Linked DNA regions of Homo sapiens. The protein of the gene in region 2 purifies or fractionates together with the protein of the main gene of each other region. This does not show direct contact. Each region holds a gene or a part of one and is shown on either strand. Other genes may lie near its edges.

Region 1 (3,832 bases), on a different chromosome or scaffold from region 2:
ACTGTTTTTGTCCATTGAAATGTCTTAAAACTGTTTTGCTCTGGGAGGCCGATGCAGAAGGATTGCTTAAAGCCAAGAGTTGGCCGGGCGTGGTGGCTCACACCTGTAATCCCAGCACTTTGGGTGGCCGAGGCAGGCAGATCACCTGAGGTTGGGAGTTCAAGACCAGCCTGACCAACATGGAGAAACCCCATCTCTACTAAAAATACAGAATTAGCCGGGCATGGTGGTGCATGCCTGTAATCCCAGCTACTTGGGAGGCTGAGGCAGGAGAATCGCTTGAACCCAGGAGGCAGAGATTGCAGTGAGCTAAGATTGCGCCATTGCACTCCAGCCTGGGCAACAAGAGTGAAATTCCATCTCAAGGAAAAAAAAAAAAAAGCAGCCAGGAATTTGAGACCAGCCTGGGCAACATAGCAAGACCTCATCTCTGCAAAAAATTTAAAAAATTAACCGGGTGTAGTGGCACGCACCTGTAGTCCTTGCTATTCAGGAGGCTGAGGCGGGACGATTCCTGGAGCCCACAAGTTCGAGGTTACAGTGAGCCATGATTGTGCCACTACATACCAGCCTGTCCCTATAAAAATAAAATAAAATAAAAGTGTTCTGAGACAGATTTATCTACCAAATGTTTTGCTTAATACTTGGATGAATTCAAGAGAAAAAGATATATTTTATTCATATTTAAATAAAACTATAACAGCTAATACTGTTTTTCTGATTTGAAAAATTGTTTATAATATTACTATAAGATGAGATTAACAATCTTTGTAAAAATCAGATTATGTTTTGGGCTTAAAAAAAACCCTAGTGTTTTCTACTATTAGTGTACTCAAATGATTTGTGAGTGATAGTACTCAAATGAGAATTGCATTTAATTTGTACATAGTTAAATCGTCTTGTTTTGAAGCACAAAGTCAGGATGTTTCTCATCAGAATTTTCTGTTTGAATAGGGAAAAGTGGCATTGGTCATGAGGCATCATTAAAACGGAAAGCAGAGGAAAAATTGGAAAGCTACAGAAAAAAGATTCACATGAAAAACCAAGCTGAAGAAAAAGCTGCAGAACAGTTTCGGTAAAACTATTTTTGAGCTGGTTTTGGTTCTATTTCCTCTTTATTGTGGTATGTTCTCTGGTACTTGGGCATATAAAATGGTTAAAGATAACGTAGACCTTTAGTTTACAATTTTTTCTTTCAATTAGAATGCGACTTAAAAATAAGCAAGATGAAATGAAGCTAGAAGGAGATCTCAGAAGAAGCCAGCGAGCCTGTCAACAACTGGATGTCCAGAAAGTAAGCCTTTTACCAGCTTTCAGTTTAGTAAAGTGTTTTGGCACCCCCTGTGATTTCCCGTTTATTTATTATATATATATATATTTTATATATGTATTATATATATTTATATATGTATTATATGTTTATATATGTATTACATATATTTATATGTATCATATATATTTATATATTTTTTACATATGTCTTATATATTATATATATTTTATGTATTTATATATATAATATATATATTATATATATATATAAAACTAAGAACTCCAAGCCCGGTTTATCTACTCATTAAAGCTTTCATGTAATGTGCACTTCTGATCTGTGACAATTGATATAAAAATGGCTTATTATTTACTATAGTAACCTGAGTTGTCTGGGTTACTATAAAACCCAGGGTTTTATAGTAACTATAGTTTTATAGTTTTATACTAACTATAGTAAAACAAAAAGGGTTAAATAAAATTTTACATTTAATTGTTCTCTGCTTATTTGAATATCAGTTATGACTATTATGTGCAGAAATTCTGTTCTTTATAATATTTGATTAACAAGAATAGCCTATTTTCAGTTCCTATTCAGTATCTAATATATGTCTAACTATTAAAATCAGAGTGGGCCAGGCATGATGGCTCAATCCTGTAATCCTAGCACTTTGGGAGGCAAAGGCAGGATGATTATTTCAGCCCAGGAGTTCGAGACCAGCCTGGATAACATTTCAAGACTCCATCTCTACAAAACATCTTAAAATTAGCTGCATGTGGTGGCACACACCTGTAGTCCTATCTACTCAGGAGGCTGAAGTGGGAGAATCACTTGAGCCCAGAAGGTTGAGGTTGCATTGAGCTATGTTCATGCCACTGCACTCCAGCCTGGGTGACAGAGTGAGACCCTGTCTCAAAAATAAAATCAAGGTGGAATGCTATCTAGTTCAAATTTGAATAGTTTTTAAAAAATTCTGTCTCTGGCTGGGCATGGTGGCTCATGTCTGTAATCTCAGCACTTTGAGAGGACGAGGCTGCAGGATTGCTTGAGTCCAGGAGTTTGTGACCAGCCTGGACAACATAGCAAGTCCCCAGCTCTACAAAAAAAATAAATAAGTAAATAAATTCTGTCTTTGCTTTTATCTTAGTGGTTCAAGTACTCTGAAAATAAAATGACTTCATTTGAAGTCTCAAAAAGCTTTGTAAAATTTCCCTTATATATAGATTACTGGAAGCAATCTCTCACTTTCCTGTTCTTACATATTACTTTACTTTGAATGTATTTCATGGCACTTATGATTTTGTAGCATATATGTATTATTTTGTACCCATAGCCTATCTTTCCTGCTAGACTGTCAGAAGGAACTTAAAGACAACTGCACAATTCTAAAGAATTGGACTTTGCATCCCCATAGTTCATGGTACAATGTTTTCACTTTTTTTTTGAGATGGAGTCTCACTCTGTCACCAGGCTAGAGTACAGTGGCGTGATTTTGGCTCACTGCAACCTCCACCTCCTGGGTTCAAGCAATTCTCCTGCCTCGGCCTCCTGAGTAGCTGGGACGACAGGCATGCACTACCACGCCCAGCTAATTTTTGTATTTTTAGTAGAGATGGGGTTTCACCATGTTGGTCAGGATGATCTTGATCTCTTGACCTCGTGATCCACCCACCTCTCCCTCCCAAAGTGCTGGGATTGCAGGCGTGAGCCACCGTGCCCGGCCAGTGTTTTTACTCTTAAAGCCACACTCAGTGAATACGTATTGAAAGAATGAATTCATGTTGACATGAACATATTTGTCATGCTCTTATGTTTAGTATGTTTAATTGAGACTACTTCTGCATTTTCAGAATATTCAGGTTCCCAGGGAAGCATGGTACTGGTTGAGGCTTGAAGAGGAGACTGAAGAAGATGAAGAAGAAAAAGAACAGGATGAAGATGAATATAAGAGTGAAGATTTAAGCGTATGCTTTGCACCATTTCCTTCATAGGGTGTCTCAGCCTTGGCAACATTAGCACTTTGAGTTGTGGTAATCCGTTGTTGTGGAGAGCTGTCCTGTGCATTGCAAGATGTTTAGCAGCATCTCTGGCCCCTGCCCACCAGATACCAGTTGCACTTTTGCTTATGACAACCAAAACCCTCTCCAGACATTGCTAAATGTCCCCGAGGGGAAAAATAACCCCTGGTTGAGAGGTACTGCATTGCAGGATTACTTTACTAACCCCAAATCAAAACTTACATATAATTTTTCCCTTTAGCTTCCATTTGTCCTCTCATCTCAGCTTCAGTTTGGATGATGAATTAGCAACAAATGTAAATTATTTTAATTTATACCTTATTTCCTGCAAAACTTCTACAAGTCATTCTAATGTGTACTTTTTTCTCCTACTTATAAACAACAAAAAAACACAATCAAAAGAAAATGGAGGCCGGGCATGGTGGCTCACACCTGTAATCCAAACACTTTGGGAGACCAAAACTGGTGGATCACTTGAGGTCAGGAGTTTAAGACCAGCCTGGCCAACATGGTAGTGTATTTTAGTCTCTACTAAAAATACAAA
Region 2 (3,832 bases):
TGTGTGTTCTCTTTCTTATATGTGACAATTTATCTAGGGTAGATACTTTGAATTATCATTTCTAAATGATAAAGAAACAACATTTTAATTTTACTAGGCAATGTCAAATTGCTCTACCTAGTGGCTATCCTAATAAACCTATGTACTAATAGGAGTTTCTGTTTCTCCACACCTCCAGGTGCATTTGATAATGTCAACTTTTCAGTTGTTGGCAATTTGGTAAAATGATTTATCTCCTTTTATTTTATTATTGTAGTTGTTGTTGTTGTTGTTATTATTGTGTGACTTGTTTACTGGTGAAGTCAAGTAATTTTTCACTGATTTATTTCTTTTGTGGGTTTCGGTTTTCTGAATTACCAGTTATACCTTTTGCCGATTTTTTCCAGTTAAATTGCTTTCTTTTTCTAGTGATTTTTAAAAGTTCTTTAAATGTTTGGGATAATTTTATGTCTATTGTATTGTTGCAAATAACTTATCTCAGCACACCACCTCCATTTACTGTTTATGTTTTTTTGATATTTGAAAAAATTAAATGTAGTCAAATTTATTGATCTTTTCCATTATGATTTGTGCCTTTGTGTACTATTTAAGTAATCCATGTATTCTTTGGGGGTCAAAAAGATCATATTTTCTTGTCATTGTTTTCTTTGCTTTTCACTTTTATTTGTTTTGCCTATTTAGAATACTGTGTGTTATTGTAAGAAACAGAACTTTTTTTTTTTTTTAAGAAATCCAGTTGTTTGCCACCATTTTCCCCATTCAGTTGGAATCCTTTTCTCACATATGCTAAGTTACAATGTAAGGATAGATGTCTTTCTAAACTCTTCATCTGGTCCATTTATTTATTTGTACATTTCTATGCCAATGTTAGATTGTTTTAATTACTAAAGCTTTATACTTAGGATAATTGGTAAGGCAAGTCTCCATGTACTTATTCAACTTTTTTCAAAATTATCTTGGGTATATTTATAGAGTAAAACTTCAGTATTCATTTTAGAATAAATCTGTCAGGTTCTGTCAAATACTGTTAATTTAAATTGGGAATGCATTGAAATTAAAGGAAAATTAGAGGTGTATTTTCATAGCTCCTGCATTGATCATTCCCACCAATTAACTGGTATATTTATACATTTATTCAGATCTTGTTGCATGTATATCAATGAAGCTTCAGATTTGCATCAAAAAGATAATGAATCTGTTTTCTTAGATAAAACCTTAGGAACTTTATAATTTTTTGAGTGTACTGTACATGGAAATTTTTTTCTATTAAGTTTTCTTATTATTTATTGATCTTACATCCCTTTTCAAACCTTGTACCTCTTATTTCCTATTAGTACTATTAGCTTGGCCATTAATTCTAGAATTTTCCACGTAGATAATATTTTCTAGGAAAAAATCATAAAAATTATATCTCTTCTTTTTTTAATAGTCATGTCTCTTTTTTTTTTTTTTTTAGAAATAGGGAAGTCTTAAGTAACTAGATATGATCTCTAGCAAAATGCTGAATGTTGACTGAGTTGGTAGAAATTCTATACTCATCTAAGATTTTAATAAGAGTGGCTCTAAACTTTGACATTAATTATATCCTATCATTTACCATCTAAGCTGAGACACTTTTGAGAATAACAGAGACCCAAGGATGACAGGCATAAACCTGGACCCTACTGATCAAGCAGTTAAAAAGCAATAGTCATATAAAATTCAGTTCTGCCGAGCTGCAGAATATATATTTTTCCAAGTTCTATAAAAAATTTACAAAATTAACCATAACTGTGGCCATAAAACAAGCTTTAACAAATGTCAAACGGTTGAGAACAGTCAGAATATGTTATTTGACCACAAACAATGAAGTTAGTAATATCAAAATGATAACTAAAAAATTCCCAAATTTATAAAATAAAAAGTATATTTCTAAATAAATTTTTAATGAGAAAATAAAAAATGGAAATTAGAAAATATTTTGAACTAAATGAAAATACTACATTTCAAATCTTGTAGGATGCAGGTAAATAGCATTAAAAGGGAAATTTATAAATTTAAATAAATATTTAAGAAAAGGAAAAAGGTTAAAAAAACTAAATGAGCTAAGCACCCATCTGAGGAAGTCAGAAAAAAGTAACAGCAAAGAAAGAAAAAGAAGAGAAATAATAAGAGACCAGAAACTGATGAAATAAAAAGCCAATATAAAATATGATGAACAAAACCAAAAGTTGGGCTTTTTTAAAAAAGTCTAATAAAATTTAAAAGACTGGTGAAAATGAGGAAGAACAAAAATAGAAGGCACAAATAACCAATATCAACAAAGATAAAGAAGTCATCACTACAGATGCTGCAGACATAAAAGAGACAACAAAGAAGTATAAACAACTTTATGCCAATACAGTTTAACATTTCAATGAAGTAAATACATTTTTAGAAAAATATAACAGTGATACTGACAAAAGAATAAACAGAACAATAAATATATCCATAACCCTCAAGGACACTGACGCAGTAGGTAAAACTCTTCCCAGAAAATATACTCGAGGCCCAGATGGCTACACCAAGAAATTTTAGTCAACATTCAAGAAAGATATTCCAATCTTAGATAAATTTTCTCAGAGAATAGAAAAAGAAAGAATACTTCCCAATTCATTTTATGGTACGAATCCCCAACAAGGATACTATGAGAAAAGAAAATAGGTCAATCTCGCTTATGAACATAGATGGAAAAATCCTAACTGAAATCTGAGCAAATTGATTCCAGCAATATATACATCATGACCTAGATGGGTTTATTCCAGTAATGAAAGGATGAAACTTTAAAAAATAATAGTGTAATAGCACATATTAACAAACTAAAGAGAATCTCATTAGATGCAGAGAAAGTATTTGATAAAATTCATCAATTCATCATTCTTTCAGCAAATTAAAAATAGTAGGCAAAAATCTTAATGAAGTGCATCTATCCAAAACCTTCAGCCAAATCATACTTAATAATGAAAGTTATACGTTTTCCCTTGCAGATCAGGAAAAAGACAAGGATGCTTGCTATCAGCATTTTTATTCAACATTATCTTGGAAGTCCTAACCAACATAAGAAGGCAAGGAAAAAAGAAGGAAAACAGAAAAGGAAGAAACAAAGCTGTCACTATTGGCAGATGACATGATTGTACATGTGACAAAATCTGAAAGATCTCTGAATAGACCCTTTGAATTAATAAGAGAGCTTAGCAAGTTCTCTGAATTTAAAATAGCTACATATAAAAATCAATGATATTTCTACACACCAGCAACAATGAGACAACCAAAATTTAAGGAAGACGCCATTTATAATAGCATTAAGCATTAAGTAACAAGACTAATGCTAACAAAAATTTGCAAAATTTCTATGAAGACAACAATATGAATGTACTTAGAGAAGCATATTAATATAAACTAAAGACATCCTAAACAAATGGAAAAATATAACCTGTTAATAGATTTGAAGACTTAGTATTGTAAAAATGTCATTACATTTTTAAGAATGTTTTCTTAATCTGTAAATTAAATATTATCACAATTAAAATTCCAAAAGTATTTTTGTGGAACTTGACAATTGGCTCCTGAATTTTATAGTAAAGTCCAAAGGGCCAAGAATAGCAAAGCCACTCTTATAAAAGTGGGACAAGGTAAGAATATCTGCTCCATCGGATTTCAAGGCCCCTTCTCCAGCATGCCACGCACAAAAATGAATTTCATGTGCAGCTATGAAACCTTTAGAAGATAATACCTGAGAATATCATTATGACTTCCCAAGTAGGGACATTCATAATCAAGAAATACCATGCATTAAGCAAAAAGGAAAAGAATG

What was found.
Region 1: the proteins of KDM4D (region 2) and GPATCH11 purify together in Homo sapiens (affinity purification with mass spectrometry; one large-scale study listed by BioGRID and IntAct). This does not show direct contact.

The regions. Positions count from the first base shown.
Region 1 is NC_000002.12:37,090,962-37,094,793, forward strand, and holds part of GPATCH11 (G patch domain-containing protein 11), read left to right. Parts: intron 1-954; coding exon 955-1,075; intron 1,076-1,179; coding exon of another isoform or gene 1,180-1,203; coding exon 1,204-1,294; intron 1,295-3,120; coding exon 3,121-3,234; intron 3,235-3,690; exon of another isoform or gene 3,691-3,799; intron 3,800-3,832.
Region 2 is NC_000011.10:94,980,166-94,983,997, reverse strand, and holds part of KDM4D (lysine-specific demethylase 4D), read right to left. Parts: intron 1-3,832. UniProt on the Homo sapiens protein: Histone demethylase that specifically demethylates 'Lys-9' of histone H3, thereby playing a central role in histone code. Does not demethylate histone H3 'Lys-4', H3 'Lys-27', H3 'Lys-36' nor H4 'Lys-20'.